Linked DNA regions of Homo sapiens: all the other regions are linked to region 4. Evidence: fine-mapped expression QTL. A gene starts in region 4. Each other region holds a variant in brackets. All regions are shown on one strand. Distances are from middle to middle.

Region 1 (7,876 bases), 81 kb before region 4:
AACTCTGTCTCTGCTACAAATACAAAAATTAGCCGGGTATAGTGGTAGGTGCTTGTAATCCCAGCTATTCAGGAGGCTGAGGCAGGACAATCTCTTGAACCCAGGAGGAGGAGGTTGCAGTGAGCTGAGATTGTGCCACTGCACTCCAGCCTGGGTTACAGAGTGAGACTCAGTCTCAAAAAAAAAACAAAAACAAAAACAAAAAAATTAAAATTAAAAAAAAAGTTAATGGGGGTAGAGAGAGTATACAACAAGTGTGTAGCAATTAATTAAAAATATGAGTAGTATAGGCTGGGCGTGGTGGCTCATGCTGGTAACCCCAGCACTTTGGGAGGCCAAGGTGAGTGGATCACTTGGGGTCAGGATTTGAGACCAGCCTGGCCAACATGGTGAAACCCCATCTCTACTAAAAATAAAAAAATTAGCCAGGCGTGGTGGCGTGCACTTGTAGTTCCAGCTCCTTGGGAGGCTGAGGCAGGAGAATCACTTGAACTAGGGACATGGAGCTTGCAGTGAGTCAAGATTGCACCTTTGCACCCCAGTCTGGGCAACAGAGTGAGATTCTGTCTCAAAAAAAAAAATATGAGTAGTAGTAATATAGAAGCAGAGTGTTCCAACAAGAGAGAATGGTAACTCAGTGGGAAGAACTGGGTTGAACACCTCCAAGTGCCACTTTAAAGGTGCCTAAATCAACCAACCAGCTCAATTGTCTGGAGTTTGGGAGAGGGAGCAGGAATACAATGAAAGAACACACTAAAACAACCTTTTGGGTAGATATGGAGAGAAGCCAGTATGCGTCTTACTATGACCTATCTGTACAAGTCTAAGTTGAGGAAATACCCATATTGTAGCACTTCAACAGAAAACAGAATTTAGCGGTCAGGGTAGGACAGAGGGGAGTTCAATTGCATTCAAGTTATGAGATGGTCTCATCTACAAAGTGTTTCTCAAACTTTAATGTGCATGTGAATCACCTGCGAATCTTCCTAAATGGATTCTGACTCTGGTTTGGATCTGGGATTTTTCATTTCTAATATGCTTCCAGTCCACGACCTACCCTGTAAGAAGAATCAAGACAGTGATTTGCAGTTAGAATTACCTAAGGGAACTTTTGAAAAAACTGCTGCCCAGTCACACCACACATTAAAGCAAAATTTCTGGGGGCAGGATCCAGGCACCAGTGCCTTAATGTCTGATCTAGATGTACAAAGACAAACTTCTGAACTGGCTGTGTGGTCAGGTAGGTGGGCTTTGGAGATCATACCTAAGTTGTCTGATTTTTACTGGCAGAATGGCTCTGAACAAACTATTCATCTCTCTGGGTCTCCTTTTCCTTAGTAAAATATGGATACCTACAAGTTATTATGAAGTCTGAATATATTTTTTAAGTACAATGCCTGCACTCTATTAAAGGCTCTGAGTAGGAGCTATTAAAATATTTATATTTAACAAACATGTACTAACCCATCACTAGCTCCAGCTCACCTGTTTAATGGAGTTCAGTGAAAAGAAGAAAGTTTACTAAAGAACTTTCATTTTTAATATATTTAACCAATGGCATGTCCCTTTTCTGTAGTCAAAACAAAGATTCCCAACAAAGCGCAGGTAAAATTCTCTCCTCTCTTAAAAAATTGGGCCAGGCACGGTGGCTCACCCCTATCACCACAGCACTTTGGGAGGCTGAGTTGGGTGGATCACTTGAGCCCAGGAGTTTGAGACCAGCCTGAGCAACATGGCGAGATCCTGTCTCTAATAAATACAAAAATTAACCAAGCGTGGTGGCACAGCCTGTAGTTGCAGTTACTTGGGAGTCTGAGGTGGGAGGATTACTTGAGCCCAGGAGGCAGAGGTTGCAGTAAGCCCAGATTGTGCCACTGCACTCCAGCCTGGGTGACAGTGAGACCCTGTCAAGGTTGGGGGTGGGGAAAGGACAGAAATTCTATTTAAGGATTCGTTGTTCAATTTCTTTGACCCTTCTTCTCTATCTGGTAACTTTTTGAAAAACATAATTTATCCTTCTTCATTTTGCTCATTATCATGTTTAAGACAGATCAATAAGATGGTTAAACCCTGTGTTCACTCTCAAACCACTTTGCAATACTGTCTTTTCCCTGTTGATCACAATTAGGGGTGGGGAAGGGTGACAGATAACAAATTCTGTGTGGAATAGCCAGACAGGGTAATCTTCCTACAGTGGTTTTAGAAATCCATGTGTACTTTTCCTTTTATCAGTGAATGAAGAATGGCTGGAAGGGGAGTGCAAAGGGAAGGTGGGCATTTTCCCCAAAGTTTTTGTTGAAGACTGCGCAACTACAGATTTGGAAAGCACTCGGAGAGAAGTCTAGGATGTTTCACAAACTACAAAGCTGAAGAAAATGAAGCCCTATTACTTGTTTGTAAGATTTAGCACCCTTCTGCTGTATACTGTACTGAGACATTACAGTTTGGAAGTGTTAACTATTTATTCCCTGTTAAAATTTAACCTACTAGACAATGATGTGAGTACCCAGGATGATTTCCTGGGGCACAGTGGGTGAGGAGATGGGGACAGGTGAATGGAGGAGTTAGGGGAGAGGAAAAGTGGATGGAAGTGTCTGGAAAGGGCACGAGAGAGTCTTCCAGGTACTGATCCTGTTTCTTGCTCTGAGTGCTAGCTAGCCAGCTGTGTTCACACTGTAAACATTCATCAAGCTGTACATTTGGTGCACTTTTCTGTGTCATACCACAATAAAAAAAAACCTAGCATCTTACAAAAACAAGACACCCAAGTCCAGGCCCAAGGAGTAAGTACAAATATTCCTGTTTCTGAACCATTACTGTAATTGGCTCTTAAGGCTTGAAGTAACCTTATAGGTTACTCATAAGGCATATACAAATAAACTTGTTTGTTTTCTTTTTTCATTATGTCTTGTTGCTTAAACAGAACCTAGACTGAGTTAGGTTCTCATGGACTACAACACTCAATTCCACAGAGAATTAATAGAATTACATACCTTTGTACATTCTCAGAGAGGAACATGTGTTAAGAACTCAATACTGAATATATATCAATCGCCAACATTTAAGTGATGAAAAGCAGCGGTGTTCATGAAGCTAGTTCGTAAGTAGTATCTTGTTAGCTGACACTTCGTAATACAGTTATGCACTGCTTCACAATGGAGACATGATCTGAGAAACGTGTTGTGCAAACTCATCTAGAGTGCACTTACACAAGACTAGATGGTATAGCCTACTACACAGCTAGGTTACCAGGTATAGCCTACTACTCCTAGGCTACAAACCTGTACAGCATGTTACTATGTTGAATTCTGCAGGCAACTATACCACAATGGTAAGTAAGTATCATCAGTGTAAACAAACATAGAGAAGGTCAGCAAAAATGTATTATAATCTTATGGGAGCATCATTGTATATGCAGTCCATTGTTGACCAAAACATTGTTATATGGTAAATGACTGCATATACTATGCTATACTAATATACATAACAGAATGCTATGGATTTGGCTAACCCAATTGTCCAATTTTTCAGGATTAACTTGGGTGAAGGATTCTGTAACTAACTAAACTATTAGACCTTAAGGCCTGGCCTTAGTTCCTCTCCCTACCCACTTCTTGTTGTAGCGTATGTGGAGCTTTGCTAACAATTTTTCAAGTGTGCAGGCGCCTGTGAAAAGCAGAATAAGGAAGTGAACTGCAGACTGAATCAACATGCAGGTGAAAGGATAGCCGGTCAGGGTGAGCACACAGGCATTAAGGTTAGCTATACCACTGGCTTCCAGCACACAGTTGGAAGACCCAGCAAGCTACCAATCACTGGAAACTTTGGACACAACTCAAAGAAAAGAAACCCCAAAGCTAAGAAGAAGAATTAATTAATGTTGCTGCTAATCAGATTCAGTGAATTTTTACAGGCCAAAAGGATAAACTCTCTGAACTGCCTCAGTAACAGCTACAATAGGAATAAAAATAAAAATGATGGGCTCTTAATTCCTTAACATAAGGCATTCTTTTATTAAATAAAAGAATTTTGATAATCGATTTCTTACTACTCATGCCTTTCCATTACAATTAATTATAATTTCCGTAATTCAT[T/CATT]GGTTTGGAATGCTACTAAAAGCAAAATTAACCCTGAAAAATATTCAAGTTCTGACCATTTATGCCTTTCCCTGGATGACCTGTGAGTAGTTGAAATTCTTGCCTTTTAAGTTGGATTTTCTTCAATACTTCTTTTATATCTTTTAGGATAGAAAAGAAAGAATCGATACACAGATCTGGTTGGAGAGAACATGGTTTAATTAAAGGCAAAGCTGATTTTCAGCAGCTGCAGGTCTTGCACAGACAAAAACAAAAAACAAAACCCAGAAAACAAAACAAAAAACCACAAAAGAAAGTTTACTACACAAAACCAGTTTCTGATAAAGATTCTCCTCCCCCTCATTACTCCACAGTGAGGATGATAAGGCGAGGAATCCCGCCCCAAGAGTCAGAAAACATTCCAAACACCAAATTCTCATGCAGAATGGGGCTTTAGATAGGAGCTGGGTATTACTGGGAGTGAGATGGTAAACCTGGTTAGCTTGTCTAGGGCGCAAGAATCAGTGACAGTTCAAACACTGGAATGTTGCAGCTGCCTGAATGCAGAGCTCAAACACACAAACTGGGTAAAGGTAGTAGGAAAAAGGCTTGGGAAGAGGAGAGAAAGGTGGACACAGGGAAGGGGCTGAAGAGAAGCACAAAAGGTTTCATATTGCCATTGGGTAGGGGGCTTCACCTTTTCAGACCTTTCAAAAAAACAAAACCCAAACACCATGTCAAACTAAAAGAGCAATAATGTAAGCATACGGGGCGGGGGGGGCTCCAACCACTCTCTCTGAAGAGCAATGAGCGTTATCTCACCCCTTTTCATTGCTGGGGTTGCCCAGACTGCAGTGACAACTGGGGCTCCTGGATGTGCTTTGCTCTACAGCTGTCTTCCAGCTCTTAAGTTCCACACTAACTCCATACACTCGCACACACAACCCCTCCCCTCTGGGACAGCAGATGGGCACGTGTGTGTACACAAACATACAGACACACAAAGGAGAGACCTCCCAGAAAATAAACCCTACCACTAGCACAGCAATTGAACAATTAGATTGTTTCCATAATTTCCCCTTAAAATATTACTTTTCCAGGAAATGACTAACAGAAATGCTGTCCTTCTGTTTCTACACAAGAACATTTTCAGTCCTCTTTCCTCCTAATAAATATCATACAAAGAGTTTATTTTCCTTTCTTTCGTCTCTTCCAAAATGGACGACGTCGTGTTTTCTTCTGTGCCTGATGGGCACATGTCCGTGCTGCCTTGAATTTCACTCTGAAAGTGGAGGCTGGGAGACTGCAGCTGGGCAGGGGCCTGGGCCCTCTGTGGGCTACGCAGATACTGCTGCTTCCTTCCTCTTCAGACTGTCTTTTGGGCCCCAACTGCTGGACCCCATGCTGTTGCTTCTTGGGGAGATGTGATGTTGCACACATTAGGAATAAAAACAATTACTAGCATACAGCATTGGGTAAAAGAAGGGATGGAGATGGGGCAGGAGGGTGGGAAGTAGAATGGGGGCACAAAAACCAACCAAAGAAAAAATAACCACACTGAAAGCTTCTACCTATTAGAACGTGTCAGGCTGTGAATGGACTAGCCTGCCTTCTGTGAGACTGCTTGCTGTGCGACTGTAAAATGTACAGGAATCAAAAACGTAATTTGAAATCCTACAGCAGTCTACCTGCTAGTCCAGCCCAGCACCACCACCCACACTGTATCCTCGATTGGGGCTCGAGCACCTACAGAGTGAAGGGCATTCCCTGCTGGAGTCTCCTGGCCAGAGGAAGGCCTACCAGAGCCTTCTGACAGGCCTTGAACTCTCCCTTATGGAACATTTCCACTGGCTGAAGAGGTCGGTTCCCCATCCTGTCACCACCAACCTCTCACAGGAGCAGTGAACGGGGCTTTCCTTGCTACACACTGACTAGAAGCACACCTGTGTATGGAAGAATTCAGTGTGATATTTTACTACTGAGAGTAATAATAATAAAAGATGTTTAAGAATAATTTCAACTACATTCTCAGTCAGCAAAGCAATCATTAATGGATTCCTATTTTATTCCCCAAAGAGGAAAAAAGGACTGAGAAGTTCCCATTGGCTTCTCCCATCTGCCTTCCCTTCTCAGCTTTCACTTCCCATGTGGCTGGGGACATGCACGATGGAGAAGGTGAGAGGCGGTGATACCAAGTAACTGAGTGAGATAAACAGCAGTTCCTCTCTCTCTCCCTCCGGAGGGCCCCGGGGGGACGGAGAGTTCCTGATGGATTTTTCTTTTTGTTGCACTGCGAACATTTCGTGCACACTCAGCGGGCTGGTGGAATACTTACACCCTCTTGACAGCGAGAAACAGAAAAGAGGGCTGCCACCTGCAGGGGACTGTGTGGGCCAGTCCTGCAAACCCAACATGCCATGGTTTATGGAGCCTTCATTCCCAGGTTGCCACTTTGGCCTCAGTGTGGAGGGTTCATGGTGCCTTGTCCCCGTTGCTGTTTCTGCTTCTGCTGCATTAACAGCTGCTCCAGAGCAGAAGGTCCAGGATGCATCATGGAACTGGACCAGATAGACTGAAAAACAGTCCAGATCTTGTCAGCAGAGGTCAAATGCCAAGTTGTCTGAAAGGGATTTTTCAATCCCAGCCAAATATAAAGGCATATATATGGCCCCAAAACCCAACCCCACTCCCCATAAAAATCCAGCTATTAGAAAAAGTCATTATAAGACTCTTAAAGCTAGTTAGTTTCCATTAAGACTATTTTAAACCAGAAGAAGTGAAATCACATTTTATGTCAAGTCTTTTTACTGAAACTCAGCTGTATGTGGTACCACACAGGGCATTTACTATAAAGTTTTCAGGCAAATAAAACATTTCTAAAATTAGATACTCTTATTTTGTCAGAAAAGGCTTAAATCAAACATTCCAAAATGAATCAGAATTTTCTTAACCTTAGAATGAAACTAAAACCTTTGTTTTTGTCCTCCTGAAGATACTGCTTTACCACTAGTGAATTCAGAAATTAAAAATTATCACTCAAGAATCTTGTAAGGCAGACCATGTTTCTAGGACTTTGTTATATATGTGCTATGTATCAGTCAACTCCGAGGGCCTGAGAAGTCTAGCTATTTATGTGAATGAAAGCAGAGACACCTTTGCTGTAATAATCTTGTGGTTCTTGTTCCTGAAATCTACTCACCTTTAGGCTTTCCATGAGGACAGCAGAGGAATCCTCCATGGAAGGGCCATGGCCTGTCCAGGTGCCACTCGGAGTGCTGGCCTGATGCCAACTGCTCTCAGAGGATGACGTTGCTGAGAGATAATCAATGCCAAACCCACCCATGGCTAAGGGATGAAAAGAGATAAGAAAAATTCAAGAAGATGTTCTATCACTGCCAATTGCCAGACCCCAGGGAAGGATAGAGTAAATTCTTTCAATTTTGCCTGGCAATGAAATGTAGATCTCACCTGGCTTATCAGTTTTCCACCGATCTGCAGTCCTTCTATCCCTGTTATCTGGAGTCCCAATGGGTCCAAAATTGGAGAATGGAACAGAATTATGGTTGTGTGTTGGAGGAGAGCTGGGTAGGCTGCTTGGGTTAGAGGAATGAGGAGACTGGCTGGCTGGTGTTGAATGATCTATTAAATAATAGCAACACAGGATATAGTAAATCATTGTTTCACAAACATACAAAGAACTACAGGTTCCTGTAGATCTGATCACTAAAATTCTACTAACAATAACCACAGGGCTTTGAAGGAAAGGGAAACTAAAGGCTCCAAAGAGATCTGCTAGATGCACT
Region 2 (7,876 bases), 90 kb before region 4:
GATGGGGGCTGGATCTTGTGTCTATCCTCTGCAGGGCTCTGGAAGGGGAGGCTCACCGTGTGCTATTTGGGTTTGTGCCTGAGACAAAAGAAGAGCTCCAGGTCATGCCAGGGAACATTGTCTTTGTCTTGAAGAAGGGCAATGATAACTGGGCCACGGTCATGTTCAACGGGCAGGTATGCAGAGGATCAGGGGCTGGTGCGATGGGCATGGGATCCTGGCAGCAAATGCAGTCTCTGTGGAGCAGTATCTGCTGCCTTCTTTGCAGACCAGCCAAGTTCTTTTGTCTGTTCGTCATCCCTTCCCCAGGACTCTGGGCTGTTCTGTGGTGTGGGTACTGATGAGCACATCTTTATTTTTTCCTTTCTGATTCTGTGGTGCTGCACTGCAGAAGGGGCTTGTTCCCTGCAACTACCTTGAACCAGTTGAGCTGCGGATCCACCCTCAGCAGCAGCCCCAGGTAATGTGATGCCAAGGCCTGACCCATTTCCTCTCACCCTTTAGGGATCTCTCCCTGGAGGGGAGAAAAGCAGTGTAAAAGAGGTGTTGTCAGGACCCCTGGAGAAAGATTCACTAGTCTTGAGCCCGCCTTGAGATGGCACCAGCTACCCAGAGCTGAACCTGGGAATGAGGGGAAAAAAGCCCAGATGTGCTAAGTTGGAGGCATCTGTAGGTCCCATTGGGCCCACCCACCTCTGTGACTCTTCCTGGTCAGAAGTCACTTGGGAAGCAAAGCCTACAGTATATGAGTGGGTTAGGTCTTCCCAAGTGTGTCTGCTTCACGTGGAAGAGTAGTCAATGTGTTGGCTGGTACAATGCCATTAGAAAGAAAATGAGGCCAGCTGCAGTTGCTCATGGCTGTAATCCTAGCACTTTGGAAGGCTGAGGTGAGAGGATCACTTGAACTCAGGAGTTCGAGACCAGCCTGGGCAAAATAGAGAGATGCCACCTCTATACAAATAAAAATAATAAAATGAGATCTGCCTTAGAGCTTTGAATCAGAGTGGGCCTTGCCAGCCACTGCTTCTAAACTGCTGCTACTCCCTCCCTCACACTTCAAAAGTCTGTCCTTCTGCCAGGCCTAGAGAGCTGTCTTTGTCAGATCTGAGCATCCCTGTAAGTGACTCAATGGCAGTGGAGACTGTCTGTCTCTAGACTGTGCAACCAGTTGTATATGAGCTCAGCCCTCCCTGGTCAGTCACCATATCCAAATGCTTTGAAAAGCTTCAAATGCCTTGCAAATGAGAAGTGGAATTTTTCCTTTCTCAATGCCCTCTGCAGTGGAGACAAGAGCTCAGTCCTGCCCCACGGCCAGTGGATTTCCAATATGGCTGAAAGAGTTGCTAAAGCGGCAAGGGCGTTTTAGCGGGTTAGGATTCTTCTTTCTACTGTGATTTTCATTTTCATCAGGCCAACTCCACCTCCTCTTTTGGCCAACATTTCCTTCGTCTTCCCCAAATGTCACTACCATTCCAACTTTTAGGACGTTATCTGCATGTGGCTCCTTTACATGGGGTCTCTGTAGGGGTGTTTCCCCACATCCACCCCTGCCTGGGAACTTTGAATGAAGGTTCTGACCGTCGCTCCCTGTTGCCTTCAGGAGGAAAGCTCTCCGCAGTCCGACATCCCAGCTCCTCCTAGTTCCAAAGCCCCTGGAAGACCCCAGCTGTCACCAGGTGAGTGGTCCTGGAGCCACAGCCTAGGTCTGGGTGCAGCAGCATGCCAGGCTGCTTCCTGAGTTCCTCTCCCTGCCTTCCAGGAAATTCTGGTTTCTTCTTCTCCCAACATGTCACTCAGCTAATGACCACGCAGCCCCAGAATCCCCCTTTCCTGCACCACCCACCCCAAACATGAAATCAGTGCCCTCTCTCCCTGCCTTCTGCAGAACACTCACGGGGCTTGGGTGAATGCAGCTGGTTCCTGAGTGACTCACGTAGTCACCAAACCCCTTGATCATTAGGTAGGGAAACGATGTCTCAGGAAGAAAAGTTGAAGTAACTATACCTGCTTATCTCTGAGGGGCATGGAGTGGCTGTTTTCAAATGTCTGAGGCACTGTATCTGGAAAAGAAATTGCTCTGTGGAGCCCTGAGGATGAACAAAGAACCAATGGGCAGATGTGAAATGGAAATGTTCTCTCTGAAAGGCTGTTTCCTAGTGTGGAGAGGGCTGTCTTGGGAAGTGCACTTGAAGCAGATTCTGGATAAGCGCTTGGTAGAGACGCAGAGTGAGTGGTTGGCCAGATTCTAGATCAATGATTGCCACACGCGCCTGATCATCAGAATCACTCGGGATGTCCCTTCCCCCATTTTTATTTTGAAAAATGTCCAACCTACAGAAAAGCTGACAGTAGAATACAATAAACATCAGAATATCTTTCACTTAAACTCACCAATTGTTAACATTTTGCACCATGAACTCGCCCTGCTCCATTCTATTTTTCTCCCCCGAGCCAGTTGAAAAGTTACAGACTCGTGACACTTCACCCTACACAGCTGCAAAAACGCAGTCTCCTGCATAATCACAATAGAATCATGGTATCTAGGACACTAAACATTCATATGATAGTATTATATAATGTATATTCCATATTCAAATTTCTCCCGTTGCTCCTGCTCAATGTCCTTGACAGGTTTTTTGTTGTTATCTTTTGTCTAGAGGCTCATCAAGGATCACATATAAACCTAGGATGATTTTGTGAATACAGAGTCCTAGGCTACTGGCTCTGATATTTTAGGACTGGAATGGGGCTCGGGAATTTGTATTTTAGAAAAAAACTTCCCATGTGATTCTAATGATCAGCTAGGTTTGAGATCAGTGGCCTTCTCTGATCATGTACCCCCTATAGTAAATATCTTTATGCATGCTACTCTTACATAAATTAGATTAATATTAGATTGCTTGATTAATAGATTAGATTAAATTAATAAACTTTAGGAAACATACACAAAAATAAAGAATAAGGTGAGGATCAGTGGTTCTAATACTTCTTCCTGTGGCCTCTGGCTCACCTTGCACTCCGATTTTCATTGCTTTGGATCCCGTGGGCTTAATTGACCTTTGGGATCCCTGCTAACCTTGTGGGTTGGTGAGGATATGCTGGTCCTTTGGTAATTACCTATAGGCTCCCTAGAAGCAGAGACTGAGTTTGTTCATGTGTTCATGACCTTCATGCTTCCCCAGGGCGAGATTTTCCCCACAGTTTACTAAGGTTAATAATTGCCCCACAAATTAAAGGGTAAGAGGTTGGGGGCCCTATTTGAAGAGGTTTCATCTGTGTGTGGCAGGGGCTGGCCAAGGATGTTCATTCACCATCTTCTTTTGTTTTACTCCCTACTTTTTCCATTCAGGCCAGAAACAAAAAGAAGAGCCTAAGGTAACATTTTTCCCTCATACTGTTTCAAGTGGTAGAAGATGGGATAGCTTGGGCTATCAACCACAGACATGTCTGTCTGGATTATAGGAAGAGCCCCAAAGGGAGGGTCGAACCAGTTGCTACCTTACAGAGTCCATGAGCTAGGGACCTTCTTAATAGCCTCCTCCACTATCATGCACACACTTCCTACTACCCAAGCTAGTGGGCCAGATCTTACTCAGTAGGAATTCCTGTCCAAGCAAGGGTTGGGCTAAAGGACCTCTGAAGGCCTTTTAGGCTACTGTGAAACCAGTTACTTACTGGCCTCTCCCCTGCTGTATTGGGTACCCCCTGTGCCAAATCACGAAACTGCGGTGATCCAGGATGTTGAGAGAAAGCCTCAGACACTCAGGAGTTCCCTTTGTTTCCTCCCCACTCAGGAAGTGAAGCTCAGTGTTCCCATGCCCTACACACTCAAGGTGCACTACAAGTACACGGTAGTCATGAAGACTCAGCCCGGGCTCCCCTACAGCCAGGTCCGGGACATGGTGTCTAAGAAACTGGAGCTCCGGCTGGAACACACTAAGCTGAGGTGAGCTCCATGCAGGCAGCTGTGAGGGGTACAGTGGGAACCTTGTGCTGGCCTGGAGGAGGGAAGAGGAGGATGGTTTTTGTGATGATGTTCTTTGACTGGATTCTTACTCATTATCCCCACCCAGCTAT[C/T]GGCCTCGGGACAGCAATGAGCTGGTGCCCCTTTCAGAAGACAGCATGAAGGATGCCTGGGGCCAGGTGAAAAACTACTGCCTGACTCTGTGGTGTGAGAACACAGTGGTGAGTGCAATGAGGGGCATCTAAAGTTACATTTCCACTGAGCCACTTCCTCAACAATTTGAAATTTATCAAGCACCTTCTGTGTACTAGGCACTATATGTGGTGTTGGGGATATGGTGTGTAATAAGTCACAGCTCTGCCTCCCTTTTACCTGCATCCTCACCCCATTTGCAGCAGGGAGAGAGTTTCCCACAAGAGAACAGCAGGCCCAGCAGGGCAGGAGCTCACAGAAAGCCTCCTGCCCCTCCATCAGCTCCCTGCCTGACTGTGTCAAACATCCCATCCATTACTGTCAAGCAAGGTTGGAATGAAGTCATATCATAGCTTAAGGCTCAGCTCATAGCCATTCTTCACCTTTTTTTTTTTTTTTTGAGATGGAGTCTCACTCTGTCGCCCAAGCTGGGTGTGATCTTGGCTCACTGAAACCTCTGCCGCCCAGGTTCAAGAAATTCTCCTGCCTCAGCCTCCTGAGTAGCTGGGATTACAGGCACCTGCCACTGCACCCAGCTAATTTTTGTATTTTTAGTAGAGACGGGGTTTCACCATCTTGGCCAGGCTGGTTTTGAACTCCTGACCTTGTGATCCACCTGCCTCGGCCTCCCAAAGTGCTGGGATTACAGACATGAGCTGGGAGAAGAAGAGTGAAAGAGAATGAGCCTAGAAAAGGGCAGTGTATAAAGCTGTTTAAGGTATCTTCCCCGTTCAGAAAATTGCCTTCAGGAAATACAGCCACTGGGGATGAGACTCCCTGGTGTCTCTGGCTGAGACAAAAGGCCCCAGGATCCTGGGGGTAAGAGTGAGTGTGAGTGTAAGGGGTCTCTTGGAAGTCTGAAAAGTCACTCTAGGTTTTCCAGCTGTCTGTCTTTGGACTAACCCCTTCAGCATCTTTTTTAAAAGATTCTTCCTAGAAGGAGTTCTGCTCTAAATGTGAACTACTTCACTTAAACTTTTTTTTAATTAAAATTTTTTCCTTTGACAGCAGCTTCAATCTATTTGGTGGCTGCACATAGCCAACCCTCTTACAACTCCCCACAATCTTTTGCAATTTAATCCAGGCTCAGGAGTCACTGTTGAATGTTCTTTATCACTATCCATTACTTTTGGAGGCAACAAAGCAGGCTTTCACTTACTAGGAGAAAGAAAACCAGGCGCAGTGGCTCATGCCTGTAATTCCAACACTTTGGGAGGCTGAGGCAACATGGTGAAACCCCATCTCTACTGAAAATACAAAAATTAGCTGGGTGTGGTGGTGTGCACCTGTAGTCCCAGCTACTTGGGAGGCTGAGGCAGAATTGCTTGAACCCAGGAGGCGGAGGTTACAGTGAGCTGATATCATACCACTGCACTCCAGTCTGGGTGACAGAGAGATTCTGCCTCAAAAAAAAAAAAAAAAAAAAAAAAAAAAAAAAAAAAAAGAGGCCTGGTATGGTTTATGCCTGAAATCCTAGCACTTTGGGAGGCCGAGATGGGCCAGATCACCTGAGGTCAGGAGTTTAAGACCAGCCTGGCCAACATGGTGAAACCCCATCTGTACTAAAAATACAAAAAAAAAAGAAAAGAAAAGAAAGAAAAATAAAATGAACTAACATTTATTAAGCATCTACTCTATGCAGGAACACTTACCATTAACCAAGTCTAAATATTTATACATATTTAGAAGAGTACTGCCACAGAGTAAGTGTTCAATAAATGTCAACTACTATTATTGTATGTCATCTCATTGAATTCTTCTAGCCTCAATTTCAGGTGAGGTAACTGAGGTTCTGAGAAGTTACACTGCTTGCTTAGGGACACAGAGCTGGTAAGCAGTGGAGGTGGGATACAAACCTTTCTCTGTGGACTCTCTAGGGCCATTTCCACCTCATTGTATTGCCTCTCAATAAAAATATACCAACGTTCAACAAACAACATTAAGAAGCTAGAACTTATAATGCTCGGTACATACAAGCCTAGCAGCATTTCTAATGTTGATTTGTTAAATTCTATGATTCACATCTGTAGAAACCGCATCCTTCTCCTTCATTTGTGAAGCAAAAGTGACAATAATGTGGAAGAAGTCTAAGATCATAAGTCTAAGATGTATAAGAAATGTTGTTACAGATAAAACAAGTATGGCATTGTGCAGTGGTTTTTGAACTTTAGCAAGTATCAGAATTCCCTAGAGGACTTAAAATACAGATTGCAGGATTCACCTTCAGGGAGTTTCTGATTTAGTAGTTTTGGGATGGAGTTGAAAGTCTGCATTTCTAACAAGGTCCCTAGTGTTGCTGTTAGAGTTGATGCTAAGAAAGCCAGTTTTGACTTAGGGCTCTGTCCCCATCTGTAAAGAAATAATAATGCCCATTCTACCTGTCTCAAGATTATTGTAAGGTTTCAGTAAGATATTTTAAGACTGTATATGATTTTGCAGACCTTTTGGTTTCATTTATCCCAGGGGTCCCCAACCTCCAGGCCACGGGCCAGCACAGGGCTGCACAGCAGGTGAGCTGCAGGTATACTGGCCTGAGCTCTGCCTCCTGTCAGATCAGCAGCAGCATTAGATTCTCATAGGAGTGTGAACCCTATTGTGAACTGTGCATGCAAGGGATCTAGGTCGCATGCTCTTTATGAGAATCTAATGCCTGACGATCTGAGGTGGAACAATTTTATCCTGAAACCACCCCCCAACCCACCACCCACCACCATTCATCTAAAAACTGTCTTCCATGAAACTGGTCCCTCGTGCCAAAAAGGTTGGGGACTGATTTACCCAACCATCCAGTATTCATAAAGAGCATATAAGCTCTACACAAGGCACTGATCACAAACTTTATGAGTTTATATCCCAGGTTCTACTTTGACATTTCGCTGTTTCCTTTAGTGATGTTCAGTGTTCACTTGGCAGGAAATTGGGAAAATTAACAGGCCCTTTATTATTTCAGGGTGACCAAGGCTTTCCAGATGAACCCAAGGAAAGTGAAAAAGCTGATGCTAATAACCAGACAACAGAACCTCAGCTTAAGAAAGGCAGCCAAGTGGAGGCACTCTTCAGTTATGAGGCTACCCAACCAGAGGACCTGGAGTTTCAGGAAGGGGATATAATCCTGGTGTTATCAAAGGGTAAGTGCTACTCCAAGACTATAGAAACAAATTTACATGTTAGCAGAAACAAGGTCAAGGGCAGAGAGAAGAAAATATCAATAATCTACAAACAAAACTTTAGCCAGTGTTTTCAACCCCCTTCCTAGCATCTAGCTGGAGGGAGCAAAGTTGAGCACTCAGACTTTCCCTGTCTATTGCTCTAGTAGCCAGGAAAGCAACAAGAAGCTGAGTTGTTTTGTTTTTGTTTTTGTTTTTGAGACAGAGTCCCCCTCTGTTGCCCAGGCTGGAGTGCAGTGGCACAATCTCGGCTCACTGCAACCTCCCCCTCCTGGGTTCAAGCAATTCTCCTGCCTCAGCCTCCTGAGTAGCTAGGATTACAGGCGCCCACCACCATGCCTAGCTAATTTTTGTGTATTTAGTAGAGATGGGGTTTTGCCATGTTGACCAGGCTGGTCTCAAACTCCTGGCCTCAAGTGATCCAACTGCCTCGGCCTCCTAAAGTACTGAGATTACAGGCATGAGCCACCGCACCTGGCCGGCGATAAACATCTTGATTATTAAAGAGGAGTATGCTTTGGAAACCATGGATTCTCATTCCCAGAGGTAACAA
Region 3 (7,876 bases), 170 kb before region 4:
AGTGTTCAACTTCACTAGAAATAATAAAGGCACACATTATAGCAACAAAAAAATACCAATGCTCCCTTCTCAAATTGGGATAAACAACATTGTAAGAGAATGTGATAAGATTGGTACACCTTCCTAGGAAGCGATTTGACAATGTTTGACCTAATACTATGATTTCTAGTAATCTATTCTAAAAAAAAAAAAAAATCTGATTCTTTATAATAAATATTATATAATATATGCAATAGATAATTTCTCACAGAAATATTTATCAAAGTGTTATAATAATTAAAAGAGGCAAGAAACTGAATGTTACAGTTACATAATAAAAAACTAATTAGCCATGAATATTGTGTTTTTTGTTTTTCGTTTTGAGACAGAGTCTCGCTCTGTCACCCAGGCTGGAGTGCAGTGGTGGGATGTTGGCTCACTGCAAGCTCTGCCTCCTGGGTTCACGCTATTCTCCTGCCTCAGCCTCCCGAGTAACTGGGACTACAGGCGCATGCCACCACACCTGGCTAATTTTTTACATTTTTAGTAGAGACGGGGTTTCACCATGTTAGCCAGGATTGTCTCCATCTCCTGACCTCATGATCCGCCCACCCTGGCCTCCCAAAGTGCTGGGATTATAGGCGTGAGCCACCACGCCTGGCCGAATATTATTTTTAATAACATGGGAAAATGCTCATGGCACAATATTAAGTGAAAAAGCAGGGTATAAAACATGACTTTGTTTATATTATATGTAACATACACATATAGCAAAAAGACTGGAGGGAATAGACATGTTAATAGTGACGGAAGGCTGGACATGGTGGTTCACACCTGTAATCCCAGCACTTTGGGAGGCCAAGGTAGGAGGATCACTTGAGCCCAGGAGTTCGAGATCAGTGTGGGCAACATAGGGAGACTGTATCCCTCCTAAAAAATAAAAAAATTATCTGGGCATGGTGGTACATACCTGTGGTCTCAGCTATTTGGGAGGCTGAGGCAGGAGGATCACTTGAGCCCGGAAGGTTGGGGCCACAGTGAGCCATGATCATCTCACTGCACTGCAATCTGAGCAACAGAGCAAGACTGTCTCAAAAACAAACAAAATAGGTAGCTCCTAGAGCATTATAGGAACAACGATAACTGAAGGAATATTTTTTAAAGGAAAAAATCATTACTTAAAGATCTCAGCTTTTTGAGTTTAACATCCCAGAAACTACTAATTTGAAATATTCTAAAGAACCATATTTGCTTTCTGTAACAGTAATTTTTCAAAAGTCTTCTAACAAGACCCACTCACGGGAAAGAAAACTCTTACATGTCAATGAATGAGTGTCCACAATCCAAAGAATACTCAAGTGGCACTTTCCTAAGAAGTCTCTATCATTAAGCAAAAGAGATCCCATGATCCTAGTCTCAAAAAAAACCCAAAAACCTCCAAATTATTTCCAGTGATTTTAAGAAAGTTGATGTTAAATGCAAGCACACTGAATAGTTCTGCACAATACATTAGATGTTAACATATTCTGAGAAGAAAGATCATGAACAAAATGCAAAACACTTTTTTGTACTTTTATAATTAGGAATAATCTAGATAACCCTAGGATTTGTACTTTTACTACTAAGAGTTAATATTTACTGAGTCCTTACTATGTGACAAGCACATTAGTGAAGCATTTTATATTCATTCTGTTATTCAATGCTCAAGACAATCTTATCAGGTAAGTACTATTAATATCTTCATTTTACAGACAAGGAATCTGTGGCTCCCAAATGTTAAATAACTTGTCAAAGGCCACCAAGCTGATAATTGGCCAAGCCCAAATTTAAAACCAGACAGTCTGTTTCTAGAACTTGCATTGTTAACTCATTTGCTTTACTGACTTGGAATCTATGAAACAGGTAAAGTTGAAGAACGCCTTTCTCTTCTGTTTCCTCCCCATGCTCTAGGAGTCTCAATAAAGAATAATGAATCCTGAGCTTTTAAATCTATGCATATATCACTATCTTTATTGTGCTACTTCCTTTAAAGAAAGTATGGTTTAATAAATTAATGCACTGTCTTCAGTTTTTCCTGCGCTGGTTTTATATGTAATTTCTCTTCCTTGTTTAGGTTTGCAGCTAGAAGACAGTAAATCTAGCAATGGAGCCCATATATGAGGAGTACCTAGCAAATCATGGAACAATAGTAAAACCATATTACTGGCTAAGCTTCTCTCTCGATTGCTCTAATTGTCCTTACCATATTCGAACAGGTGAAGAAGCAAGAGTTTCCCTCACAGAATTTTGTCAGATTTTTGGATTCCCTTATGGGACAACATTTCCTCAAACAAAACACCTCACATTTTATGAACTAAAAACTTCTTCTGGTAGCCTGGTGCAAAAGGGCCATGCTAGCAGTTGCACTGGGAATTATATCCATCCAGAATCAATGCTCTTTGAAATGAATGGTTATCTTGACTCAGCCATATACAATAATGACAGCATCAGGCATATCATTCTGTATTCCAACAACTCCCCTTGTAATGAAGCTAACCACTGCTGCATCAGCAAAATGTATAATTTCCTGATTACGTATCCAGGCATCACTCTTAGTATTTATTTTTCTCAGCTCTATCATACTGAGATGGACTTTCCTGCCTCAGCATGGAACCGCGAAGCTCTCCGGAGCCTGGCCAGCTTATGGCCGCGGGTTGTTTTGAGTCCAATAAGTGGTGGGATCTGGCATTCTGTTCTCCACAGCTTTATAAGTGGTGTCTCAGGATCACATGTTTTTCAGCCCATTTTAACTGGGAGAGCACTGGCTGACAGGCACAACGCATATGAAATCAATGCCATAACAGGCGTAAAACCTTACTTCACTGATGTTCTTCTCCAGACAAAAAGGAATCCAAACACAAAAGCTCAGGAGGCTTTAGAGAGCTACCCCTTAAACAATGCCTTTCCTGGACAGTTTTTTCAAATGCCGAGTGGACAACTCCAACCCAACCTACCTCCAGACCTCAGGGCTCCTGTTGTTTTTGTGCTAGTGCCTCTCAGGGACTTACCACCAATGCATATGGGCCAAAACCCAAATAAACCCAGGAATATCGTAAGGCACTTAAATATGCCTCAAATGTCATTCCAGGAAACCAAGGACCTTGGAAGGCTTCCCACTGGAAGGTCAGTGGAGATAGTGGAAATCACAGAACAGTTTGCAAGTAGCAAGGAGGCAGATGAAAAGAAGAAGAAGAAAGGGAAGAAATAAAATCTACATTCCTACAGCATGAAACCAATTACCAAGGGACTTATTAGATAGGCAATAAAAATCTGGAAACTTTCTCTCTCAGGGCTGAGCCAAGATGGAGATAAACTGATGCACTAAAAGCAAACCTTGAATTATTTACCATATCAACTATTATAAAGTTACACTATTTTAAACATAATCCAAAATGTTTCCATAAGCAACTTGATCTCTCTCCTTTATTTTGAAAGTGGCAGTATCAAAATGGAACCATTAGCAGCTTGCTAATATTTTGATGCAGAAAAGGAATCTCATTATTCTATTTTACTCACATCATCTTTCCACTACAAAAGCCCATGGACAAAATAGCTACCTAAATTTGTTTCGGTAAAAAATTTACTGTAAAATTGAAAAACAGCCTGAAGCTACTGACATTAAGTGCTGTTTGCAGGAGCAAACCAGTGATTTTCTATTAATTGTTAATCATGGACAGAAGATTTTAGGCAGCTCATTTTTTTCTAAAGTGATTCAAAATAGTTTTGTGTGGGAAAAAGCTCTTCTGCTGATTACATATAGCTATAAAGATTAAAACCTAGCCACCTGCTCAGTTTGATCTTCCCCAGCTCAGACCTCTCCCTTCTGAGCAGATGATAGAGGTAAGATGATACATGAGAACCTCCAATGGCTCCTGTCATCACATACTGTATAAAATCCAAGTTCCTCTTACTGGCTTTCAAGGATCCTCCTTTAACTTCCTGTTGCCTTGTCTCATCAGCAAGATCATAAGTACCTACAGGTCAAGCACTGTCTCTCCCTTCTCTTTAGCTTTTCCCTTAGGATCTAGCACATTACCCAGCAAAATGTGAGTAGCAAGGCTGAAATGACATCTCAATAACTTCACCAATGATTGTAACTCAGCATCCCTTCTCCATCCCAGCTGAAAGCCTGCTTCA[C/T]CATCCTGCAAGAGATGTTTTTTCTTTTTGTTAGCATCCATTCCCCTTTCTAATGCAGCTCCCAATGCATAATGTGTGTTTTACTTCCCTCTTTCTGACTCCATCCTCGTCACCAGTGAATATTTGTACCTTCTCTTAAAATCTTCAAAACACACTTCTAGGAAGTGCTCCTTGATTAATCCTCTAAGCACTTAAATGAAAGCACTTTGCTTATGCTTATTTCACATTTGCTGCCACTTGCCTCTTTGAAATATGTAAAGATACATTACAAGAAAAATGTACATTTTCTCGTAACTTGCTATTAATTTTTTTCTTTATATATATATATAAAGTAATCCTAAGCTAATAAAAGAGTTTGCCATGACATTAAAACATTTAATACTCCATAAGGGAGGAGGAGAAAGAAAAACATATTTTAGGAATAGCAATTAGTATTGTGGTTAAAATAAACATGAATAAAAATTTTAAAACAAAGTTTTATTGTTAGCATACAAATTTTAATGGAATTACTGGAATATAGTTTTATTCTGGGTATATAGTGAGTATTATTTAAAGAAGTACTGTTGAGGTTTATTTTTATTTCATGAAATCCTATGTCCACAATTTGGGATACTGAGTTAAAAAGATCCCAACATGACAAATCCAGCATCTCTGATCATTATTAAAATAGATCCAATTTGTTGCCAGAAAATGGCAGACTACAACATGAACCAGGCTACAGAGAATCCAATTAGAAACATGGTCTGAAATAGATGATGAACTGAACCTGGATATCAGTGGTATATAACAAAAGGAGAAGTTGTCAGAACTATAGGAAAGAAAGTGCCTTTGGCAGTTAAACTTTTGTACTGGTTCGATAAGACTAGGGCTACAAAGAAGATTACTCACAGGTCGTAAGTCCAGGCCAACCTTAGACAAAAGACTGTTAGAAGAGCATAAAGATATACTGTCCAAGGCAAGTAATCTGTTTCCTCATCTGTAAAACAAGAAATGTGGGCTAGTTCATCTTTAAGGTTCCTTTCAGCTCCGTCTGCTATAAGAAGGCATATAGCAAAGCAATAGTTCCACAAAGTGAGATCCTGCAGTGCAGTGATTAGCTTTCCTTGCTCACTACGCAGTGATTCTTGGTCATATCAGGCTGGCCGGGGATTGAGAGAGAGAAATTGGGTTGCTCCACCCCTCTTCAGCCAACTGGCAATGGTGATATGGAAGAATATCTCTGCCACCACACATATAGAACTAATGGAAATAAAGAAAATAGAAGTAAATTAAGGTAGCTAGTAATATGATGATCTGGAAAAGGCACTGGGATATATCCCAAGAAAACAATGAGACTGAAGAGACGGACACATTATCTTGGTGAATCTACCAAGGTCCAGGGTTTGGGGGTCTTAGCTTTATATGCTCAACTACCTACTTAGTAAGTACAGGGAGAATGGATTTACTCATCAGAAGCAGGTTTGGATTAACAAACCTCTTGAGATTGACATGTAAAGACAAAAAACTAATGTACTGATTTCTAGTAAGACTTATAACTGGATATGCAAGCATATATTCAAGTCATCCAGGTTACATAGCCTCTCCATGTAGATAAGCTACATAGCAAGCCAAATTATCATAAGGTTGCCTTATGGATTAGAGGAGTCCATTATGTGACTCAAATGTTTAGTGCTATCAGATTCTGCTTTAGTAGTGGTGACTGACATCTGCTTAGAATGAAGTGGTGGATGGGGTATGCACAAAGGCATCTCATTCCTGGACAATGTTTGGGAGGGTCTAGGCAACAAGAGACAACACAAACCTCTATGACCAGCTCCTGTCATAGCATCGATTTTCTATGTGACTAGAAATCCGTTTTCTATGTTTCATCAAGCTACAATCCAATTTATATAATACTAAATAGATTAGAATTCATCAAGCTATAATCTAATCCTGCTGATCGGACAGCAAATCCTATTTCTTTAAACTGCCGTTACATCTTTTTTATTCATAGTATAAGCAATCCAAAAAGTTTAACTCACAGAATGGAATCTTACTCTTCGTATTGGTTTTTAAGGAAAGCCACATAAATAAATTTAAAAATTAAAAAAATAAAATAAAATAAATTTTAAAAGGAAAGCCACATCATAACCTATGCTAATTTAAAATAATATTATTCGGCCAGGCGTGGTGGCTACTGCCTGTAATCTCAGTACTTTGGTAGGCTGAGGCAGGAGGACTGCTTCAGCCCAGGAAGTAGAGGCTGCAGCGAGCCATGATCACACCACTACACTCCAGCCTGGGCAACATAGCAAGACCCTGTTTCTAAAAAATAATATTATCATTATTACTAACATTGAGTGAGAGCTATATGTCAAGTATTTTTCTAAGCACTTACATGTATTAATTCATTTAATCCTCCCAATAATCCTATGAGGTAGATATTATTATAATAACTACTTTACATATAAGGAAATTGTGGCACAGATAATTTAAGTAACTGCCCAAGTAGTAAAAAAAGGCTGAGCTGAGCGTTAAACCCAAGAAGTCAAGCTCCAGAATCCATGTTCTTAATCATTATGCCTTAATGCTTCTCTAAATAATAACAATGCAGATTCACTACAAAGTCTGAAAGAATCCATATTTATTTAGGACCTGTCCTGTAGCTTTTCTGTCATTCTGCTCAAACCACAGTACCAATGGGCATCCTCTAAACTATGGAAGCCAGGTAGGCAGGGTGGGCTAGGGTGGAAAACTTTAGTAGGTTCTAGATCCCAGAACTTTGGCCCTCCCCCACTCCCCTGTCGCCCAGGACCTCATGCCAAACATAAATCCCAAGATTATCTTATCTTAGGTGTCCCTGACTTTCAGGGATGTACTAAATCTGGGACCCAAGGCAATAGAACATTGTTTTATTGCATTGTTTAGTTAAAATTAAGTGCAAATCGTTCCTCAAAAAATTAAAGAGAATTAATATATCATCAGGCAATTCCACTTCTGGGTATAAAATCAAGATCTTGGCCAAGCACGGTGGTTCATGCCTGTAATCCTAGCACTTTGGGAGGCTGAGGTGGGAGTATCGTTTTAGCCCAGGAGTTAAAGACCAGCCTGGGCAACATAACAAGACCCTGAATCTATTTAAAAAAGTAAAGTAATTTTTTTTATAAAACAGGACCTCGGGCCGGGCGCGGTGGCTCACGCCTGTAATCCCAGCACTTTGGGAGGCCGAGGTAGGCGGATCACGAGGTCAGGAGATCAAGACCATCCTGGCTAACATGGTGAAACCCCTTCTCTACTAAAAATACAAAAAGTTAGCCAGGCATGGTGGCATGCACCTGTAGTCCCAGCTACTTGGGAGGCTGAGGCAGGAGAATCACTTGAACCCAGGAAGCAGAGGTTGCAGTGAGCCGAGATTGCACCACTGCACTCCAGTCTGGCAACAGAGTGAGACCCCGTCTCAAAATAAATAAATAAATAAATAAATAAATAAATAAATAAATAAATAAAAAAACAGGACCTCAAAGAGATAGTTCTACACCCATGTTTATAGCAGTATTATTCACAATAGCCAAAAGGTAGAACCAAACCAAATGTCCATTGACAGATGAATGGATACCCACAATGTGGTATATACATACAATGGAATATTATTCGGCTTTAAAAAGGAAGGAAATCCATTCACCTGCCACAGCATGGATGAACCCTGAGGACATTATGCCAAGTTAAATAAACCAGTCAAAAA
Region 4 (7,876 bases):
TCCTAACCTTCTCCTACCCCCATCAAATGAATTGTATTCAATACACCCTTTCTTTTACTCAACAGAGGTGTCAAAGTCTTTTAAAATCTTTCATTCTGTCATAAATCAAAAGAGAAAATACTCTGAATTCTCCTTCAATTTGAGTAATAAATTCCCAATGTTATTCGGCCTAGAACCCTCATATTTAAGATCATATTTTTATTTTTATAAAACATAACAAAGTATTTTCAACTTAACTGATTCTCTTAGAAGTCTTGTCAGTGTATTAAAAAGATACTTACCTTTCAACAAACAAAAAATTTCATTATCCTTTCCTGCCCAGAATATCATCATCTTTCCCACATAGAAGATAGGTTTTCTTCCTTTCATCTCTGCTCTATTTTTATAACTTGAGACTAATTCAGTTCCCTTGATGTTGAATTCTCTCTTTATTGGTCTTACTGGGACTTCTTGCCTCCTATCTTCATTTCTGACCCTTCTGAAACAGCCATCTTGCTCCTTGGTTTCCCACCACCCCACCATTTCAATGCCAGACATCCCAGCTCATTTACTCTAACAAATTAAAATTCAGCCAAGACAAAACTAATTTTCATCTACATGAGGCAGGATCTGTAGCTATAGAGATTAAAAATTGCCCAGTCATGATCTTCCACCACTGACAAAGGTAGGCAAGAAAATTCTTCAAGTCAAGGTCACGAAAACAATTGCTACACCCCCCAACCACATCCATTCAGCAATACTCGGCATCCTCCCTGAAGTGTCTATAAAAACCAACAGTTCTATTTTCAAAGAACGTGAACATAATGCTTCCCTAAAGACATTCTCTAGTGTCCCCACTGCAGACTTTAAATGGAATGATTATCTAAAAGAGGAGGAGGGAAATTCAGACTGGCACAAGCCTTTATGATTCCCACAACCACCACCTAGGTCTCAGACTTCTAACACTTGTTTTAATTTACTTAGGACAAATGCCTAAGATTGAGACAAGACTGGCTCCAGGAATCTTTAAGGGACCCCAGGACCTATGCCTCCCCCATTTTGCCTGCTCAATTTTAGCTGAAAAATATCATTGTATTCATTTTTTTTCTCCCTTCTTCAAAGAACTAAGTTCATCTCAAACTATCATTGATTCCACATCTAAGGAAGTCTTCCCTACCATGTCAAGCTATAAAATATAAGGCACATTAACAAGAAGCCTCTCAAAGTCCACTGATCTTCCCCATTAAAAGTACCACCACTCTGCCAATTTGTTTTTCATAACTTTCTAGATCCACTGCCAGTACCTTATTCAGGACCAAAGTCCCAAAGGGAATCTTTTGTAAGGAAAAGAACCTTACAAAAAGGACCAATTTTGAAGTCTTCCCCTTTTCTAAGCAGTAGTCACTCCCCAATTAATGTCAGGCTCTAACAACCTTACTTTTCTCTGTTATCCACCACTACATTACACAGAGTCATTTTCCTAACACATAGCTGTGAACATATTAATTCTAGCAAATCATCTCAGATTCTCCATTGTCTACCCATTTTAACTATAAATTATGGAACATGATATTCAGGATCCTCTTAAATATGGTCACCTTATCAAATAGGATTTCCCCGACCACTTTGTCCAGATAAAACAGTACATCCCTGTCTTACTTTATTCCTCTTCCTAGTGCTTGTGACCACCTGATATATATTTAACTGCTATGTTTACTGACTGTGCCCTTCTACTATAATATATCCTCCCATGTTCACCCTTTTATTCACCAGTGTACCCTCAACACTAGAATATATTATGTTCTCAACTTATATTTGTGGAAAGAACAGATGAATACTGACATGCAGTGTACTACAGCTGACTTGAAGTTAGAAGACCTACATTTCAGTTAGTTTCCACATACCAGCTATATGAGCCTCAACAATTTTACCTTCTTTGGGCTTACATTCCTCATGTGTAAAAGGAAAGGGTCAAACTTGATAATCTCTACAACTCTTAAGTTTTCTCAGCTATATCACACTACCTTGTTGTCTAACTGGACTGAATACCTCCCTTCCCCCCAGCTTCCCTACCTACATAACTCTGCTCAGTTTCCTTCCATTTGGAATTCCCCGCTTCTCAATCCACATCTGTCAAAATGAACATTAAGGATGAACAATATCCTAAGTGCCATTTTCTTGAAGTCTAACAAAGTGTAAGCTCTGTAAAAGGAGGGTGGAGTTGTTCTTTTTCTATTCTCAGATGTTGGTACAATGCCTCCCATACAGGTGATCAACAAAACAACTAATGAATCATGAGTACATGAATGAGCAAATAAACAAAGTCTTTCCTGATTTCCTCCCATTGCTCAGGTGATCTCCTGCCTTTGGACTCAAAACACTTCGTATCTTTTATTTTTATTTATGTATTTACTTATTTATTGAGACGAAGTTTCACTCTTGTTGCCCAGGCTGGAGTGCAATGACGCCATCTCGGCTCACTGCAACCTCTGCCTCCCGGGTTCAAGCGATTCTCCTGCCTCAGCCTCCCGAGTAGCCGGCATTACAGGCGCCCACCACCATGCCCAGCTAATTTTTTGTATTTTTAGTAGAGACGTGGTTTCACCATGCTGGCCAGGCTGGTCTTGAACTCCTGACCTCAGGTGATCCTCCCGCCTAGGCCTCCCAAAGTGCTGGGATTACAGGCGTGAGCCCCCGTGCCCGGCAACGTTTGGTATCTTTCATGGTACTTACACTCTGTGCTGTTTAATTTACTTGCCTAACAGATACTCAACTGCAAATTCCTTAAGACTAATCAGCACCCTGATGGTTTCCATCTCTCTATAGCACCTACAACAGATCTTTGTCATAGCTATATTTATTTGAAATATTAAACAACAAAGGGATATCTAAGATGAAAAAAAGGACCTCAAATTACAGACATCATTCCAACTGTCCTGTGGTCACTGGGCATATATGTTGTGTTAAAATCAAGCATTCAAGCATTGTTCAAATATCTCATCATTCTCTTCTCTCCCTATTATGCTTAATAAAACTTTACTACTTTAAAAATTATAATGGCCACCCTATGTATCAGGTAACTACACACCTCTTGCAATATACATATAGGGATCCACACACGTCAATACTTTCATGTCACTAAACAGCTAAAGTGACTTTTCCACTCATTTCAGACTTCCACCTCATCCAACTCCCTCCTCCGCAAGGTATGAAACAATTTTTTAAAAAACATCTTTCCATAAGGCCTCCCTTTCTTAGTTCTGCTCCTGAAAGACAAAAAGGACCAATTTTAAAGTCTTCCCCTTTTCTAAGCAGTAGTCACTCCCCAGTTAATTTCAGGATCTAACAACCTTACTTTTCTCTATCAAGATTTTTGACCCACTTTACCTCTGCCTCCAAGCTCTTACTCAGCTTCCATGGAACCTTTCAGCTGACACAAAAGCTGGTGTCCTTCCATTCAATATGTTCTCGCCATCAGGTACTAAGTTCAACCTATCTACATCTTCATCCTGAAATGTGCATCAATCGCCGCGCCCCCCACCCCAGACACACATCTCGCACACACACACACTATTCCCATGTGTCACTCTACCTCTGACATACAAGTTCCTTACACCACTCTTAATGAATACACACGACTCTCAGAATGGTATCTTCCGACTACACTGATTCTAACCCAGTTTCTTCTGAAAAACCCAACCTTGTCCACAGTGCCTCCCTCTTTCCTCACTTCCCCATCTATTCCCCTTCACGCCTCCCCACACCGCCAACTAACTACAGATGACATTATTCCTCAATACTCCCAACCCGAGAATGAAGAACAAGCTCCAGTTTCCTGCGGTCTCCCTCTCCCCCTGTCTGCCCTCCGCGGTTCCCCCGCCCCAACACCCCAGGTGTGCAGACTTCCTCCCCGTCCTCTACTCATGCATCGCTCCAACCAATCCCACGCCACACCACGAGTCCCCTGCCACGGGGATCAGACTCCTCCACACCCACCTCCACTCGGGGTCGCCGCCGCCTCCCCGGACGTTTCTCTCCACCCCTCGCTAGCAAACCCGAGACCAAGGGCGCGCGCGCACATTCTCACGCTTCCCCAACCTCCCTCCTCGCACCGGGACGAGCCGGCTTCGCCAGAGCTCAGCCCGGGCGGTAGGGGCTAGGCACCCATACCCGTTCCGCCCCCTCCCGCAGATCCCCTTGCAGTCTCCGCCGACCTGCCCGGCGAGGAGAGGACGCAGCAACTCCCCCGCCACCCCGGACTTACCTCGGTGTCTGTTGCTCCATGCCCCAACCTGCGGCCCGCTCCCCCTACGTACCAGCCCGGCCTCGGCACTCACCGGAGGTACTGCGCGCTCTGCAGGCTCATCCTCCGCCGCCGCCGCCGCGTCTTCCCGCGAAGCCTCCGTGGGTCTCTCAGGCTCCTCGGAGCGGCCCCGCGGCACCGCGGGTGCTGGCGGCCGCCGCCATCTTCCTCTCCTCCGGCTCCTCCTCGCTCGGCAGGGGGGTGGGGGTGAATGAGGCGAGGGGGAGGGAGTGGGGAAAGCTGCTCTCGCTGCTGCTCTGGCCCGTGGGGCGCAGGGACACTCCGACCCGGGGGGGAGGGGGAGGGAGGAGGGGCGGGGGAAAGAGGAGAAGCAGAGGAAGTCGGCGACCGGGCGAGGGAGGGGGTCCCTCTCGCGAGATTTCAGCAGCGCCTGTCCCTCAGTGATTTCCGCCTCTCTGTAGCGCTCCCTTTTGGGATCAACGAGCTGTGTGGCGCCTGTGCGGCTTCTGAGAGACCGGCTGGTGGCGCTTGGCGGCTTCCTGCCAATCCACCCTTCTCCTCCCGCGCAAGGGGGCAATCCCAATCCCACCACCGGGAACACCCAGGCCAAAAGAACGGGAGTTACACTCAAAGTCTTCCCCCTTCTTATCACTCCTGCCGATTTCCCTCTTCCTTTTTGCACGCCTCCACTCTTCCCCACCGGAAACGCCGCCCCTTCCTCCTACAGTTCCTCCCAGCAGTCCCTCAACGCCTGTCTTCCCTCGCGCGTAGAGAGTGACTCGAAGGACCCCCTCTCCTCTTCGCTGCAGCCCCTCCCCATGCACGCTGGGAGACTCTTGGAGGGGATAAGGTGGGGCCCGGAGAGGAAGAGAAGACAATCGGATTGGATAGGCAGCTGCCATGGCAACTGGAGGCTGTGGTTATATTGTCATAGTAACCGATGTGTGCGGACAGGGTCACCCTCCCCTTGGCCAATGGATTCCCAGGAAACCACCCAGGGTTCCCCGTTGGCTTCCCTTCCATCTAAAGGCCTCCCCCAAGTTAGGAATCGATATAGTTCTCCCCGGTGGTGAAGTCCACTTCCTCCTCCCTTCCCACTTCCCACAGCAACTGGGGGGACACCCCGAGGCATTCACCATGGGCTTTTCCACCCGCCTGCGAGCGGGAACCACCTCCGTAGTTTCCTCTCAGAGCCGGGCGTGGAGAGGGCTGGGCCTGCGAAGAGGATGCATGGCCTGGAGGCTGGCGGGCGGCGGGCTGGAGTCGGGAGGGCGAGGCGACAGCGCCAAGCGGCGAGGAAGGGCAAGGGGTTTCCCCACAACTGCCTTGGGCTCTGGGAGGCGGGATCCCGCCTGGACGGGGTCCCTGAGGGAGGAGAGCGGCACACGACAGCCGCGATGCCTTCCCTGCCGACGGGGATAGCCGACTTCTGGCGAGTCGACCCCTCCCCCAAATCCACCCCACCCGCGTACTCCCTCCTGACCTAGCTGTCGCGAGCCTGCCGCGAGGAGGCCAGGGTGAGGGTGGGAACACATCCTAGAAGGCTAACACGTGGTTTTCTATCATTTAAGCCGGGGACAAGCCGGAAGGCTGACTAGCGCCATCACTCTGATAGGCACCCCGCAGTGGGGATCCTGCTTGATTATTAAAGGCAGACCTCCAAGTTCCTCCCTGCTCTGCAACCTTTCTCTTCTCACGGGTCTGCAGTGTTTTAAAAGTCGTCATTCTGTGTCGTTGAGTTAGAGAGGAAAACATCGGATAAAAGAGGATCAAGAAGAACGAACCCTAGATACATCTGTCTGGTGAAAGGAGTCTAGGAAAAGAAGTTTCATTCTTAGAACAAATCTTTTTGGATATTTATTATGTGTGTTTTGTGTCAGGTTTCGGGCCAAAAAGCTGAAATAAAGAACGAAGTCAATAATAATATGAAGTGTATGAGAAATAGCTGGAAAATTCATCATCCATGACTTGAAGAAATTGACGTTTTACAAGTTATATTTTCGGTTCGTATTGTGGAGTCACTTAAGGAGCTATCCCAAAGTACTTTAGGATATGTAACTATATAAAACCTTCCAAGAATGCAGCCCTCATAGGATAGTTAAAATAAGGATTTTAATGGGCTATTTTGATTTGGTTTGGTCTGGTTTGGCTACCTGATTCCTGCTGTCTTTTTCTACGCCAGGTGAAGAGGCACTTTCAAGATCCTTCTCTGAGACCTGCACCAATAAGACTATACCAATGTTCAGTTGAAACATCAGGTATAAGTTTAGCGGAAACGAAAGTACAACCTGCTTTGAAATAAATTCCAAGGACAGATTGTCATTAACGAAATAGAAAGTGGACTATGCCCCTCATGCTGCCAGCGCCTGGTATGGTGCGGCGTGACACGCAGCGCTTGCGGCAGTACAATGCCCCCAATCACCCGCCCCGCCCCGACGCGCCGCCCACTCACGGCAAAGAGAGCCACCTAGTGAGGGATTATTCTCATTTCCGCGGTGGGGTTCTGCTTTTCTTTCTACCATGAGCGCCCAAGGATAGACACTCCTACTACCTATTACCTCAAATAGCCTACATTTCTTTCCGAAAATTTATTGGTTAGATATTTTTCTTTTTTTTTTTTAATTTAAAGACCAGTGTGATCGTGTATTGGTTAGATTTTTTAATTGGTTAGATTTCAACCAGAATAAAAATTGTAATAATTACCCCCTTACTAATCATGGTAATAGCCATTTATGTCTGTGGCACATATCTCCAATAAAGAGTGTATGAACAGTTATCATACATTCCTGATAAGCAATCTAGGAAAATATTACTACTATCTTCTCATTTTGGAAATAGAGAAACGGATCAGAAAGATGAATCCTTTTGTTAGTGTTTGCTGATTTATTCCATAAACATTTACTGAGTACTTATTATATTTCAGACACTGTTCTGGTTATGATGGACACCACAGTGAAAGAGACCTGGTCCCTGCCTTGAGGAAACCCAACTGCTGGTAGAGAGCTCAGAGTAATGATTAGGATGCAATATGAGGGATGCAGTAATTGGGGTAAGAACAAAGTAGGAACACATGAGGTCAGAAATAATAAAGTCTGTGTTTTATAGCAGCTTTCCTAAGAATCTTATAAGAGTCTTCAATAGCTTTACAATATCTCTAGCTAAATAGAAGAATAGTAGTATATTTTAGAGATTAGAAGACTTTGATACTAATATTAAAATTACCTTCAAAAATCAATAGGACTCAGAAAAATTATTACCTTCTATTTATATACTGTTTAATACACATTTTCCATTTTCATCTATTTCCACTTGTCCTAGTCAACAAACTTGTAGAATTACAAACATCTTTCTTTTTGCAATAGATATTGTTCACCTTTTCCCCCCTACAGATATAAGATCACATCTAAACCAAAAGAAATTAAAGAGAAGCTTCCTTACTTACATTAATCCTACCAGATTTTGTTTTTGGGTTTGTCTTTTTGGCTAAGTGATTTCATGGAAAGATCACAAGCTAACGGACCTGAGTATGCATTCTAACTCTGCCATCTTGGTGTCTGAACTTCAGTTTGCTCCTTGACCAAAATGGAAGCATTACCTGTTATAGGCTTCCTGTGACCTTTAATGATGACATAC

Evidence for each region. PIP is the estimated chance that this variant, and not a neighbour inherited with it, causes the effect.
Region 1: its variant is fine-mapped to the expression of SMG7 in whole blood (TOPMed, PIP above 0.99). The same link has a PIP of 0.9 or more in B cells, CD4 T cells, CD8 T cells, NK cells, lung and monocytes.
Region 2: its variant is fine-mapped to the expression of SMG7 in whole blood (TOPMed, PIP 0.97).
Region 3: its variant is fine-mapped to the expression of SMG7 in whole blood (TOPMed, PIP above 0.99).

What each region holds. Positions count from the first base shown.
Region 1 is chr1:183,550,587-183,558,462 of GRCh38, reverse strand. It overlaps SMG7 (SMG7 nonsense mediated mRNA decay factor), which reads right to left. Exons shown (of 23, transcript NM_001375584.1): 21 at 7,542-7,712; 22 at 7,273-7,418; 23 at 4,272-6,645. The coding sequence ends at 6,532. NCF2 (neutrophil cytosolic factor 2) reads left to right here. Exons shown (of 15, transcript NM_000433.4): 15 at 2,233-2,901. The coding sequence ends at 2,345. Among named protein-coding and RNA genes, the nearest start is that of NCF2, 36 kb to the left of the region's middle. The variant T/CATT (reference allele first, on the strand shown) is at 4,095.
Region 2 is chr1:183,559,504-183,567,379 of GRCh38, reverse strand. NCF2 (neutrophil cytosolic factor 2) reads left to right here. Exons shown (of 15, transcript NM_000433.4): 8 at 35-176; 9 at 392-460; 10 at 1,601-1,676; 11 at 3,350-3,375; 12 at 3,795-3,946; 13 at 4,074-4,185; 14 at 7,107-7,284. Among named protein-coding and RNA genes, the nearest start is that of NCF2, 27 kb to the left of the region's middle. The variant C/T (reference allele first, on the strand shown) is at 4,078.
Region 3 is chr1:183,643,028-183,650,903 of GRCh38, reverse strand. APOBEC4 (apolipoprotein B mRNA editing enzyme catalytic polypeptide like 4) reads left to right here. Exons shown (of 2, transcript NM_203454.3): 2 at 2,093-4,629. The coding sequence starts at 2,123. The coding sequence ends at 3,226. It also overlaps a transcript of RGL1 not described here. Among named protein-coding and RNA genes, the nearest start is that of APOBEC4, 6.4 kb to the left of the region's middle. RefSeq lists a silencer at 4,856-5,150. The variant C/T (reference allele first, on the strand shown) is at 4,156.
Region 4 is chr1:183,469,090-183,476,965 of GRCh38, reverse strand. It overlaps SMG7 (SMG7 nonsense mediated mRNA decay factor), which reads right to left and starts at 4,467. Exons shown (of 23, transcript NM_001375584.1): 1 at 4,317-4,467. The coding sequence starts at 4,345. It overlaps SMG7-AS1 (SMG7 antisense RNA 1), which reads left to right and starts at 4,984. Exons shown (of 5, transcript NR_040063.1): 1 at 4,984-6,246; 2 at 6,426-6,501; 3 at 7,167-7,292. RefSeq lists silencers at 4,480-4,629, 6,602-6,791 and an enhancer at 4,785-5,416.